Homo sapiens: one gene and its partners. The protein of the gene in region 3 interacts with the protein of the main gene of each other region in a biochemical or structural test. Each region holds a gene or a part of one and is shown on either strand. Other genes may lie near its edges.

Region 1 (3,036 bases), on a different chromosome or scaffold from region 3:
TAGTTTGGTTTGGCTTTCTTTACTGTGGTAGCATTTACCAATTTCTTCAGTTCTGCCTAATCTTAGTTTGCATATAATATTGTCAGCTCTTACAAATATATGTAGATAGTTTTCTAAAATGAAAAAGAAATGGGCTGGTCACAGGAGGTGGGGACTTGGGATGGATGGTTTTAGCAGCATCTGAATGGAGTAGGCAGCTCTTGTATTCCTAATGTACTTTCACACACTGTAGCTTTAAAACAGAAGCAAGTTGCTGTGTTGTTGCCAACCAGATAGCAAAGTGGATAATATTCTTGGTTAACACCAGGGCAAGGTACTTTTTATACTTGGCAGTTTAGTTCTTTTATAAAATCCAGTTTGAAAGGTGTATCAGCAAATTATCTTGAAAAAGCTATCAAATAATTGCCTTATGAATGTAATCAGAACCTCTTTCAATTATAAATCTTTAAGTAAAACATGGAAACAATAATGGAAAAAATAAAGAACTCTTCAGACAGATGTAATTGTATATGATAGTTTTATTGGCATTTTAAACTACTTTGTAGTTGTTAAAGTATTTTACATTCTACTTTCTTTGTAGGGAAAGTTAAGCATAATTCTGATTTTTTTTTAATCTAAAAGTCCCATTTGGCACCCAAAAGTTCCATTTCATATGCATTACTCAGTTATTTACACATAATCCTTCAGATTGTGTGTGGAATTGTTCTCGAGCTGTGTGTTAGAGATAGGCTGCTGTGTGGGTGGGTCGAGTCTAGCTTCTGGATTCCTTTTTATACAGGAGGTGCAGAAAATCATGCCAGAGATAAACAACAGCATTGCAGAAATGAATCCGATATAGATAGCTCCTCCAGGTTCATGTTTGTTGCTTTCTGGAACTGTCAGATCCAGAAAGTTTGCTATGATCTCCTTTGTGTACCACACTGTCGAGATTAAACTAGAGATTCCTGCAGACATGAAACAGACTCCTCCAGCAAAGGAAGCATGGCTCTTGGTTTCTCTGTCCCCTCCTAAGCGAGTACATTTCATTCCTACTGTGGAAGTGCAGATCCCCAAAGCAGACAGAACACACGCCAGGACCATGGTGGCTCTCGCAGCCTGCACGTGGATGGGGAGGGACAGAATGGAGTGTTTCAGGGCACAGCTGAACATCCCAGTGCTGTACCACGTACAGTCCATCCAGAGCCCGTGCAGCTGTACAATGGCTGTTATGATGTTGGAGTCCACATCCACATTCACCTTCCAGTTGGGCAGCAGAGTGGCTGTGAGCACTCCAGAGACCCCAGATAAGGCCAGGATGAAAGCAAGGAGCTGGAGTCCTGCTGAGGCCATGATGTTACTGTTAAGTCTGTCCTCTTAGAAAATCCTGATGTTTAACAATGATGGCTGTCAGAATTCTATCTATTTCTGTGCAGTAGAGAACCAAATAACAAAGCCTAAGGAAAAAAGGCAAAACCAGGATTGAGCGAAAGAAAGTAAGTAAACAAAAGGCTTCCCTTTAGAGTAGGAGCCAAGAACACATCTGAGTATCCCCCTTCTCCAGCCCCCAAGCAGATGAGGATGCTGTAGGCTGGAGGAGAAAAGCTCCCACCAGGCCTTGAAGACTGGTCTGAGTGATATGCATGGGTGGTGTTGATACAGGGCATAAAGAAAGCAGTTGCCCACTTAATTCTTTTTAAAACTCAACATATGCTGAAACTGTAGCGTGGACATGTACGTTGTTAGGAGATTTAGACATTTGAAATTCCAGCTATAGTATCTGATAAAGAATTTTAATAGCATTATAGGTTTTTCAAATGATTTTATTTTTTATTTTTATTTTTTTTGAGATGGAGTCTCACTCTGTCACCCAGGCTGGAGTGCAGTGGAGCGATCTTGGCTCACTGCAAGCTCCACCTCCTGGGTTCACACCATTCTCCTGCCTCAGCCTCCCGAGTAGCTGGGACTACAGGCGCCCGCCACCATGCCCGGCTAATTTTTTTTTTTTTTGTATTTTTAGTAGAGATGGGGTTTCACCCTGTTAGCCAGGATGGTCTCGATCTCCTGACCTCGTGATCCGCCCACCTCGGCCTCCCGAAGTGCTGGGATTACAGGCGTGAGCCACCACGCCTCGCCCAAATGATTTTATTTTTAATGAAAATACTCAATACATAATAAGGAAGAAAATAAATTAAGGCCACCTTTTAAAGATGGTTTATAAATACATTTTAGAAAAGTATTTAGGAAGTGGCTTTCATAAACAGATCTTTATGACACACCCACAGTGCCAGGCACATAGCCCAAGTGAACCATTTGAGGAGGAAGGACAGCAGTGGAAAGAAGTCTGAGTCACTGGCATGGTTATCCCTAAGTTCTAGTTAATACCTGTTTGCAAAATCCTGACTGAGGTTAGTACTTGTTTTACTTCAGGTGCCTGGTACTCAAAACAATTAAGCCACTGTTTTTTGTATATAAGAACATGAGGTCCTTTCTAATTGGGACCAGAATCATTTCCTGGCCCAAATGAAGCCGGCTATTCTGAACAATTCAGAAGTAGTGATGGCAGATCTCAAAAATACATACCAGAAATAACCACATCATTAGTTGTATGTGAAAGGATACCAGAAATAAATTAACCCTTTATTTTCTTTGTTTATTTTTAAGAGGAAGGAAAAGACCACCTACTTTGTGGCTTGGCTGTGTTTTAAGAAACAAAAAGGCTTTCGATTCCATCTTTCTATTCCTGTTCCCCTATCTAGCCCATCTGGCACTGCTTACTGCCTTATTTGAGAAAAATGTAATGGTTTCTGAAATACTGCAGTACTGACTTTCTTTGTCATTCTGAGTTAATTTTGAATGGTATGCTAAAGTGGCTCTGTCGTGATTCATATGTATTTTACAAAAGGTGATACAGGCTCTTGAGTCAAAGACACTTGGGCCAGTTCTTAGCTTTATACCTCTCTGTGCCTCAGTATCCTCTTCTGGAAAATGGGGAGGATTGAAATACTTCGTTCATAGGGTTAAATAAGTTAATACATTTTAAGGGCTTAGACCAATATT
Region 2 (2,438 bases), on a different chromosome or scaffold from region 3:
GCTACTATTCTACCATTATTCTCTGAAACAGCTGGGAAGGGCTCACTCTTCCCTTTTCTCAGGTCACAGTTGACTGTGAAGCTGGCACTCAAGCCCAAGTCTGACCCCAAAGCCCTTGCTCTGAACCGTTACTCTATGATAAGCCCCTCTCTGCTCATAGTAAGCCCCACCATTTGTTAGAGATGGGTAGGAGACCAAAGTTCGCATGTTGTTGTTGTTGTTGTTTTGGTTTTGTTTTTTTTTTTGAGACAGGATCTCGCTGTCACCCAGGTTGGAGTGCATGGGACCATCTTGGCTTACTGCAGCCTTGAACTCCCAGGCTCAAGCAATCCTCCCACCTCAGCCTCCCAAGTAGCTGAAATCACAGGTGCACACCACCATGCCTTGCTAATTTTTCTATTTTTTTGTAGAGACAGGGTCTCAACCACGTTGCCCAGGCTGGCTTCAAACTCCTGGGCCCAAGCAATCCACCTGTCTTGGCCTCCCAAAGTGCTGGGACTACAGGCGTGAGACACCATGCCCAGCCCACATGTTTCTCTTAACAACTTCAAACAGCCCTTCAGTGCACAGTGATGGTGTTCACTTAAGGCCTCTCTCCTACCAGGGACTTTCTCTACTACTCCCTCCACCTCTCTTCAGACACAGGTGCTGTTAACCAGGAAAGCCAGAGACAGAAACTGACTTACCTGGCTGTGAAATAAAGTATGAACCAACCACTGAGTAAATGGACTTTATTCTCTTCATTAAGAACATTATTTTGAATTTGTTCAAATTAATGTCAGCAGCAATGGAATTTTTAATATAATCTAGCACATTCTATCCACAAGATTCACTTGGGCAGTTCAAACACTTAAGGAACATGAGACTGCTGCTACTTGTGTGTTTTCAGGTAGAATGAAATAAACCTTAAATGAAAATGTGGTACTATATGTGTTCTTTAGAAGTCCTGTGGCAGGATTAAAAACTTTACTACACTACAAGAGCCAGCCTGTGGGGGGTGAGATTTCAGATGCCCGTTGACAGACAGCTACTTCTAGGTGCTGGTGGGAGCACAGTTCCTGGTTAATCCTTCTGCTTACATTTTTATTGTGAAAAATGTAAAACATGTACAAAATTTCTATATAATGAGTACAATACAATGAGCTCCCATGAACTCTAAACCCAGCTTCACAATTATCAACTTATGGCAAATCTTGTTTCCTCCATAACCCCTCCAACTCTCCCTTCTCCCCAGTTATTTCGAATCAGATTATATCATTTAATCTGTACTTTAGTATTAAATGGTTTTTAAGTATACTAAAATGTATATAAGAAGATAACTATTAGAGCAGCACTGTACAAGAGAATTTTATGCAACAATGGAAATGTCCAATATAGCAGCCACTTAGCCGCATGTGACTGTGGAACACTTGACATGAGGCTGATGGAAGTGAAAAACCGCATTTTAAATTTTATTCAATTTTAAATAAATAGCCACATTTAATGAGCCAATTGGAGAGCACAGATCTAGAGCAAATTTGGTCAATAACCTTAATAGGAAAGTAGGTATTATGAATCCCTCCATGGGAAGGCAATAAAGACATGAACAATAATTGTTATATTGACCAGGATGAATTTGTAAAATCACTGCAGTAAACATTATCTGGCTGTCTCCTGGTTATATGCAATGTGAGCAACTATAGTGTAACTGAACACTTACTGTAACATGTAGGAATTCTGCACTTCTAGCCACATGCTCCACTGTTCTGATAAAAACCTTGTAGTGGCTTGTATAGTGAGAAATCAAGTGAATGGGAAATACTATTAAAAAATGATGGGACATACCTTAGTCCCTACCTCTTACTGGTTCTTTCAAATTACTACTACAGGCCAGGCACGATGGCTCACACCTGTAATCCCAGCACTTGGGGAGGCTGAGGCGGGCAGGTCACTTGAGGTCAGGAGTTCGAGACCAGCCTGGCCAACATGGTGAAACCCCGTCTCTACTAAAAATACAAAAAAAAAAAAAAAATTAGCTGGACGTGGTGGCAAGCGCCTGTAGTCCCAGGTACTAGGCTGAGGCAGGAGAATCCCTTGAACCTGGGAGGCGTAGGTTGCCGTGAGCTGAGATTGCACCACTGCACTCCAGCCTAGGTGACAAAGCAAGACTCCATCTCAAAAAACAAAACAAATTAATACTACAGTAATTACTACTATAATTAATATTAATACAATTTAAACTGTCCAACACAAGTGTGTGGCAGTTAAGGTGCATACCTTTTGAGAGACTTTTTCAATTTCAAATGTATTGCTCAATATCCAGACTATTAATGTTAAAGAGGAAACTGCAACAGTCCCAAGCCCCTTACTTTCCTGACATAGGTAACAATGTGCTAAATTGGCTGCTTTAATTCTTTGGCATCTTGCTTCAACAACTTAAAAAGAAAAGATTGAAAACC
Region 3 (3,500 bases):
TGTACGTGAATGTGTGTAGTGTGCATACGTTGCTAACCCTAAATGAGCCTTGAGTACAGAAACTGCACTTTAATTCTGGGGCCCTCTGGATCGTCTCCTTCAGCTGGGATACCTGGAACCTATAGGGTTACACGTCACAAACCAAGAACAACATGTTCATCATTGACCTTATGGTGCAGAAAGTATCTCTTTATCCACTGAACTTAAATGTCAAAACTGATAAAGAAAAACTTTTGGAAGATATTTATGTGGGAACGCACATCCCCCATTGAATGGCTCATTATAGTTGGGCCTTGAACAACCCAGGGGTTAGGGGCGCCAACTCTCACGCAGTTGAAGATTCATGCATAACTTTTGACTCCCCTAAAACTTAACTACTAGTAGTCTATTGTTGATCAGAAGCTTTACTAATAACATGAACAGTCAATTAACACATATTCTGTATGTTATACGTATAATATACTACATTCTTAGAATAGAATAAGTGAATTCAGGCACAGTGGCTTACACCTGTAATCACAACTAATTGGGAGGCTGAGGCAGGGGCATCACTGGAGCCCAGGAATTTAAGACCAGCCTGGATGACACAGCAAGATCCTATCTCTAAATAAATAAATGAATTAAGAAAGTAAGCTAGAGAATAGAGAATGTTATTGAGAAAATCACAGGGAAGAGAAGATATACTTAGAGCACTGCACTGTATTTATTGACACCATAAGTTTACATCATCTGTTTATGAGATGAATGGTCTGAAATGGTGGCAACCACGCTGCAGACCTCAATCTGTGGTGCACAGCAAACAATTCAGCTTTTTGGCAATGCTGTGATATTCCCGCTTCTTGGGGCACTTGCAACATCCCTTGTGGCACTTCGTGTGGGTCCCGGGGTGTTATTCAAGGTTTACGTTACTGGACTCAACACGAAGGAGGGAAGGTACACAAGAACTCTGAGAGATCACTCGTTACCATGCTCTGCAATTTACTGGAGAGAGAAATTGCTTCCACAGGGATGATTAAGACATTTTACTCAGAAACCCATGTCACACTATGTGCTCCAGTTAACCATGGGCAGGAATGATTGAACGCTGCATCTTTACCTTTGTCTATATTCCTCTCCACTGCAGATGGTGCCAAATTGATTGATTTATATTTTACAGGAGTAAATGATGAAATAGACTAGTATCTACATATATTGTATGAATTCACGACATCTCTAACTTTTTCTTAATGTTTTGATATTTTTAAGCTACACAGTTTGTCTTAAGAGGTTTTTACAATTGTTAAATTGTTTTCAAAAAATTTTCCAACATACTTATAGAAAACAATTGGCATACAAATGAGCCCACGCAGTTCAAGCCCATATTGTTCAAAGGTCAATTGTGTTTCTTTCCTATCACTTGCTATATTTGGGCAGCTGTGTATTATAATAGAAGAACACCAGGTTTTGGAGTCAGATAAAATTTGAGGCCTTTCTTTGCCCAGTATTAGCTGTTTGATCTTGAGCAATTCACTCTCTCAGAGCCTCCACTTTTGAGCTGTGAAATGGAATCGTGATAAAAATGTTGTCATAACTTCACATGACAGAGTGGCCAGCATGCAGGGCTCACATCCCGGATTCACATGAGTTCACTACGTGCTTTCATAAAGACACACGTCCTAAGGCAATGCTGAGCCAGGCCGTACATGTCGATTTGATGTCTGCTTTGCAGCTACCTGGCTTCCTGGCAGGGTCAGCTCTGGCAATATCCAGAACAGCATTTCCAGCCACCCCCACGACTGAAGAAAGCCCACCCCCCACCTAGGACTGCAAGACATCATCTTATTATGTTCCCTTTCCTGAAAAAAACAAAAAGGGTTGTATTCTAAAATTACATATTTTTTCTATTTATATTTATTATGAAACAATTATAGCAACAATAAAGGGAATTTAAAAGATAAACTTATTACTATGTTTTGTCATCTGATTTTTAAAAATATGTCAATAATTATTAATATAACCTTAATAATAGGACAATAATTAATATTCTCTTTCATGCAATGTGAATTTGTACATATAACTGTATAAATTTATAGTAGAATTACTTAAAATATGTTGTAAGATTTTAAAATATTTCTCAATGGTCTTTTGATTATTCTTCAAATATCATTAATTTAAGGAATATCCTTAAACATTCTCATACATATAGCTCTTTGATTCCTCTGAACTCAGTGTTGTAATGGACTCTTCTTTAGATTCAATTCTGAGGAGTGAGACTGCTTGATCAAGCAAGGGATTGTTTTTCCACTGTTTAGCCTCACAAAGAATGTGTTGTAAGTTCTACAAAAGGAAAATTAATTATTCATATATAGCTCATTTCCCCAGATAGTTCCTGTAGCTCCTTTAAAAACAATCACTCAGACCTTGTGGATCGCAGTGTGTTGATACGACTGGAAACCCTGAGCACTGAAGTTCAAGGTCAGCGGCTTGCCGTCAACAGTCAGTCAGCGGCTGGCTAGGCCATCGGGTTTCCTCGTCTGGACCGAGCCTTCGGGTTTCGTCGTCTGGACCGAGCCTTCCGGTTACCTCGTCTGCACGGAGCCTTCGGGTTGCCTCGTCTGCACGGAGCCTTCCGGTTGCCTCGTCTGGACGGAGCCTTCCGGTTGCCTCGTCTGGACGGAGCCTTCCGGTTGCCTCGTCTGGACTGAGCCTTCCGGTTACTACGTCTGGACTGAGCCTTTGGGTTTCCTCGTCTGGACTGAGCCTTTGGGTTTCCTCGTCTGGACTGAGACTTGACCCGGCTTCTTCCCACCTCTGGGACCTGGAACTCCCTATCTTTAGAGCATTTGCTTTAGAAAATGTATTATTGTATGTTCTTTCTCTGCCATTTGATACCTGAATCTTTCTAGAAGTCTCTTGCTGGCTGTACAACCCAGGACTGTCTTTCTCAAGGAGCTGGGAGCTGTCCCTTCAAAATGTGATCACTGGCAAGATGGCGTCATCTCCTGTCCCTGTGGAAGGATGGAGCCCAGCCTTGGTGGGTGCTTGGCTCTAAGCTGTGCAACCACCTCCTGTCATGAAGATGGGGGAAGCTCTCTGTTTCTTTGCAGGAGGCCAATTAACAGACAATGATGGCCCTAATCTCCTTCCCATCCCAACTTGTAGAAACCCTCTCATCCTTTGTTTCAGTGGAGTTGAATCTCTGAATCTCTCTCTCTCTCCTATCATAATAGACTTGAATAAGGTCTTCTTGCCTTCTTCGCCTTTAACTCTGGTGCAGTTTTGTCCTGACATGGCTTTAGGAAAATCATTTAGGAATTCTTCCTCTCAGTGTTGATATTATCCAAACAGGACTACCCCGAAGATCCGTGGAGAACACGTTCTAGAACTCTTAACGGCCACTCGCGACAGGCTCCCGGAACACCACTGCTTCTAGCACGTGGAATAGAGCGGGATTCGGGATGAGCTTTGCAGCCACGTGAGTCTGGGCCCCATCCCTGTCTCTGCTTGGCTTCTGGAAAGTC
Region 4 (3,998 bases), on a different chromosome or scaffold from region 3:
AATTCCAATAGAAATCTAAAGGAAATTAGATTTCTCCCTTTTCTCACATCATAATGTAGTTCCTTGTTTTTGACTTTTACATTGGTGGAACACTATAGTATGTAATCTTTTTGTTGGTCTTGTGGTACCTAACCAAATGGTTTTGATGTTAATTCACCTTATTGCAGACAGTACTTTATTCATTCCCTTTGCTGTAAAAATTCATTATGTGAATATCTGCTTATTTATTAACCTATTATTAATGAAATTATAGATTATTTCCGATTTTAAGATATCATAAACAGTTGAGTGAGTTATTCCAAAACAATCAGTTTGATCATAGCCTACTCTGCATATAATCACATAATATTTCCTCTTAGGTTTGTGAGAAATACCAAAATCCTTAGGTTATCTTGTCCCTTCGTCTTTAGCTGATTCTCCACTGTCATCTCCTGCCTGGCATCTCCTACCCCTTCTTTTACCACCCTGTGATCTATTAAAATTGGTCTATCTGCATTTTCCCAGGACAGTATCACAGAGGACTGGGTGACTAACTATTGGAAATTAACCCTCTGACTCTTAGCTCATTCTACATTCCATTTCCTGTCGTACATTCAAGGTTCAAATTTTCAGGTGAGACACCAGAAGACATGATGTTGGTGGATGGCAAGTGGCACTTCAAGTCCCTCATCGCCATCAGGGGAGACATGGTTGGGTGAAGGTAATTGTTCCCTGCCATGTCAGGAGACATACAGCAAGGTGAATACCCCAAACTTCTCACACCACAGACTGAGATAGTATTATCCTTGGATTACTTACCTCACATGGTTCTAAAAAGCTGTTTTTGCAAAGACAATAATCAAGTTTCTACACATAATTTTTCAACACACCACCAATGATACCTTCAAATATACCCTACAGGTTTTAGAGGAATGCGTGTTCATCACACTTGGAACTATGATGTAATGACAATTCTCTGGGCACAAGCTATCAGCTCACAGTGTCCAGGTAGGACTGGACCTGGTACTCCTGGCCAAGGCTGAATCCTATGTGATGAAACGTCTTCCTTTCTATTCCCTTAGTTAACTCTTTCTCATATTTCTAAACCACATGTTGTGGTACCTTCTCTCTAAAACCTGTCTTGAAACACCCCCAGTTCACATGGAGATATCATTTCTGTGTCCTGCATACAGAGCTCAAATTTTAAAAATAGCACTCAAAACACGGACTAAAAATTTCCTTTTCTGTTTGGGGATCAGGGCAGCCTCAGGAGAATGTAATTTGCAGTAAGTAATTCTAGATGAAATAATGTTTCATAAGTTGATAAAAAATGCCCTTAAAGAGAGCTGTGTTCCATACACACTCACCTGTCTGATAAATGACCGCCTAGGATGCCTCCCACCATCATTCCAGCCATGAATACAAATTTAGCCACTGAAGTCAGTGATTGAGAGTCACATACCAGATCCCACTGGAAGAGAAGGAAGCCAGCACATCAATGCTTATTACCCCTCAGTGTAACTTGATCAAAACTTCTTAGCATGATCTGCAAGTTTCCTAATATTAAGTCTCTAACTTCCTCTGTGGCTTCCTTTCTCAGCATTACCTGACCTTTGTTATTCAGGTCTCAACTTAAACATAACTTTCTCTTGGAAGACTTTCCTAAACCTATAGGTTTTTATTTCATACTAAATGGTTCTCAAACATGACCACATGGTGCAATCACTTGAAGACCTTTAAAAACTTTTAGAAACCTAAATTTCCCTCTTAGACCTTCTCATATGATTGTTTTAGGGTATACTCTGGGCATGGAGGCTTTTCTCAATTTCCCAGATATTTCTAATTTGCAATGACAGGCTGAGCATCACTGACCTAGCAGAACATTTTAACATATTATATATAAATGCTTGTTTAAACTTTGGTCTCCCTGTGACTTAAAGCATTATAATAGCAGGATGCCTTCTACTTTGGAATTCATTACTCAAAATGTGTAGGTGTCAGACATTTAATAAAGAAGCAATTAGTATTTGCTGAAAGAATGAAGACTAAGGACCTACATGTGACTGAAGGCTGGAAGCATGATTATTACTTGTGTTATTCTAAACACCCAGGTCACATACTCATGAGACGAGAACAGAGCCTCTTACCTCAGTCACGATGGTGGATGAGAAGGAGATTCTGTCATACACCCAGCCATCCACACAGGGCTCCATGTCTGCGTCACTTGTGTTGGGGAAGGTCCCATTCAGGTGAAGGAGCTGCCACTGAGGATGAACAAAGCGACGACACTTCTCTGGCCTCATGTTTGAGTCCAGTGGGATGGAGATTCTCAAGAGTGCATCTTGGCTGAGGGCCCCAGTGTCATTGTCAGAGACAGTGTCATTGTCCAGGATGTGGACCCAGCAGCGATGGCCAGGTATGAATGCAGTGAAGTTCTCCAGCATAAAATGAAGGTATGTAGCAACAGCAAAGATTGAGAGAAAAACAGTCTGAAGGATCTGGAATCTCCACAGGTCACCAGCGTGACCCAGGAGGTCCTGAAAGGCCATTGAGGTTGAACAGTTGATCCTCAAGTAGAGGCAAAATGACTGTATCCAGAGAGGTTCAAAGAGGGAAAATGTTTTCTTTCCCTAAGTCACACTAAATGTGTTTTGATCCTGACCCCACTCTCTTCTTGACGACTGTGCTTCCCCTCTGCAGCAGGACCGTGGAAACAGTTTCCTCAAGTCGTTTTGGGGTCAGATAGGTAGCCGTTTTCTCTAAAGTCACGTAAGAAATAATTTGCTCAGATACTCCCAGTCGTTTACAATGAAATGTGTTTAAAATTCTACTTTTTCATGTCTTTAGTAGCTCCCAAAGTCAGCACTGGACTTTGGTCTACACTTTTCTGTAAACAAACTAAAATAAACCTGCTACATGGTATGCGGTCATTCCAGGAAGCATAATTTTGGCGACTCAAAGGTGAGGTGCTTTTTTTACTTCTCTGAAAACAACAGAAGGCAAGTTTTTCCTTGTTAAGTACCAATTTTTGATTAAGAGTTAATCTAAAAAAGTCGAAGTTAAACTAAAATAAGGGTACTGTGGTACAATCCTTTCATTTTGGTGACTGATGTTCTCCTTCATGTCAAATCACACCACAAATTCATGCTGGAAATACATTGCTTGAAATGTGGACAGAATAGATGGTGATGAAAAGCAGAGGAGTAAGCTCATATGGAGGTTTACTTTTACTGGCTTATTGATTTTTCAGATAGTATTTGTGAAGACCTTTTCCATGCTAGTTCCTAAAGTAACGTGTGTGACAAGTTCAAGGATCTTATAGTTGAGTAAGTAAGAGAGAGTACATAAACAATTGCACTCCAACATTATAAATATTATGTGAGATGCACTATGTGCTGTGGAAGAATTGGAGGCAAAATATGGGAGAAAATGTCACCTTGATTAGGACTAAAATTTCTATTAAAATTTAAACCTCCTTGAAGTATAATTCATTTACCATACAATTTACCCTTTTAAAGTATACAATTGAATGTGTTTTGATCATTCAAAGAGTTGTGCAATCATCACTACTATATCGTTACAGAGCATTTTAATCACCACATAGGAAACCATACCCATTAGCAGTAACTCTCCATTTTTATTCACACATCCCACTTAGCAACCGCTAATTTACTTTCTGATTCTAAGGATTTGCCTATTGTGGACATTTGATTTATACATTGAATCATAAAATACTTGACTTTGTATATCTGGCTTAATTCATTTAACATAATGTTTCTTTTTCTTTTTTTTAAATTATACTTCAAGTTTTAGGGTACATGTACACAACGTGCAGGTTTGTTACATATGTATACATGTGCCATATTGGTGTGCTGCACCCATTAACTCATCATTTAGCATTAGGTATATCTCCTAATGCTATCCCTCCCCCCTACCCCCACCTAACAACAGTCCCTGGTGTGTGATGTTCCCCTTCCTGTGTCCATGTGTTCTCATTGTTCAATTCCCACCTATGAGTG

What was found. The genes of interacting proteins can lie anywhere in the genome.
Region 1: the proteins of SNTG2 (region 3) and CLDN20 interact in a test that uses a peptide from one of them, tested with the Homo sapiens proteins (one large-scale study listed by IntAct).
Region 2: the proteins of SNTG2 (region 3) and RAB9A interact in a test that uses a peptide from one of them, tested with the Homo sapiens proteins (one large-scale study listed by IntAct).
Region 4: the proteins of SNTG2 (region 3) and SLC22A9 interact in a test that uses a peptide from one of them, tested with the Homo sapiens proteins (one large-scale study listed by IntAct).

Annotation. Positions count from the first base shown.
Region 1 is NC_000006.12:155,274,013-155,277,048, reverse strand, and holds the end of CLDN20 (claudin-20 precursor), read right to left. Parts: intron 1,434-3,036; 5' UTR 1,330-1,433; coding exon 670-1,329; 3' UTR 501-669; downstream 1-500. UniProt on the Homo sapiens protein: Plays a major role in tight junction-specific obliteration of the intercellular space, through calcium-independent cell-adhesion activity.
Region 2 is NC_000023.11:13,706,128-13,708,565, reverse strand, and holds part of RAB9A (ras-related protein Rab-9A), read right to left. Parts: intron 1-2,438. UniProt on the Homo sapiens protein: The small GTPases Rab are key regulators of intracellular membrane trafficking, from the formation of transport vesicles to their fusion with membranes.
Region 3 is NC_000002.12:1,261,849-1,265,348, reverse strand, and holds part of SNTG2 (gamma-2-syntrophin), read right to left. Parts: intron 3,455-3,500; exon of another isoform or gene 3,328-3,454; intron 3,014-3,327; exon of another isoform or gene 2,931-3,013; intron 1-2,930. UniProt on the Homo sapiens protein: Adapter protein that binds to and probably organizes the subcellular localization of a variety of proteins. May link various receptors to the actin cytoskeleton and the dystrophin glycoprotein complex.
Region 4 is NC_000011.10:63,368,587-63,372,584, reverse strand, and holds the start of SLC22A9 (organic anion transporter 7), read right to left. Parts: upstream 2,801-3,998; 5' UTR 2,529-2,800; coding exon 2,127-2,528; intron 1,451-2,126; coding exon 1,347-1,450; intron 1-1,346. UniProt on the Homo sapiens protein: Sodium-independent organic anion transporter, exhibits high specificity for sulfated conjugates of xenobiotics and steroid hormones such as estrone 3-sulfate (E1S) and dehydroepiandrosterone sulfate (DHEAS).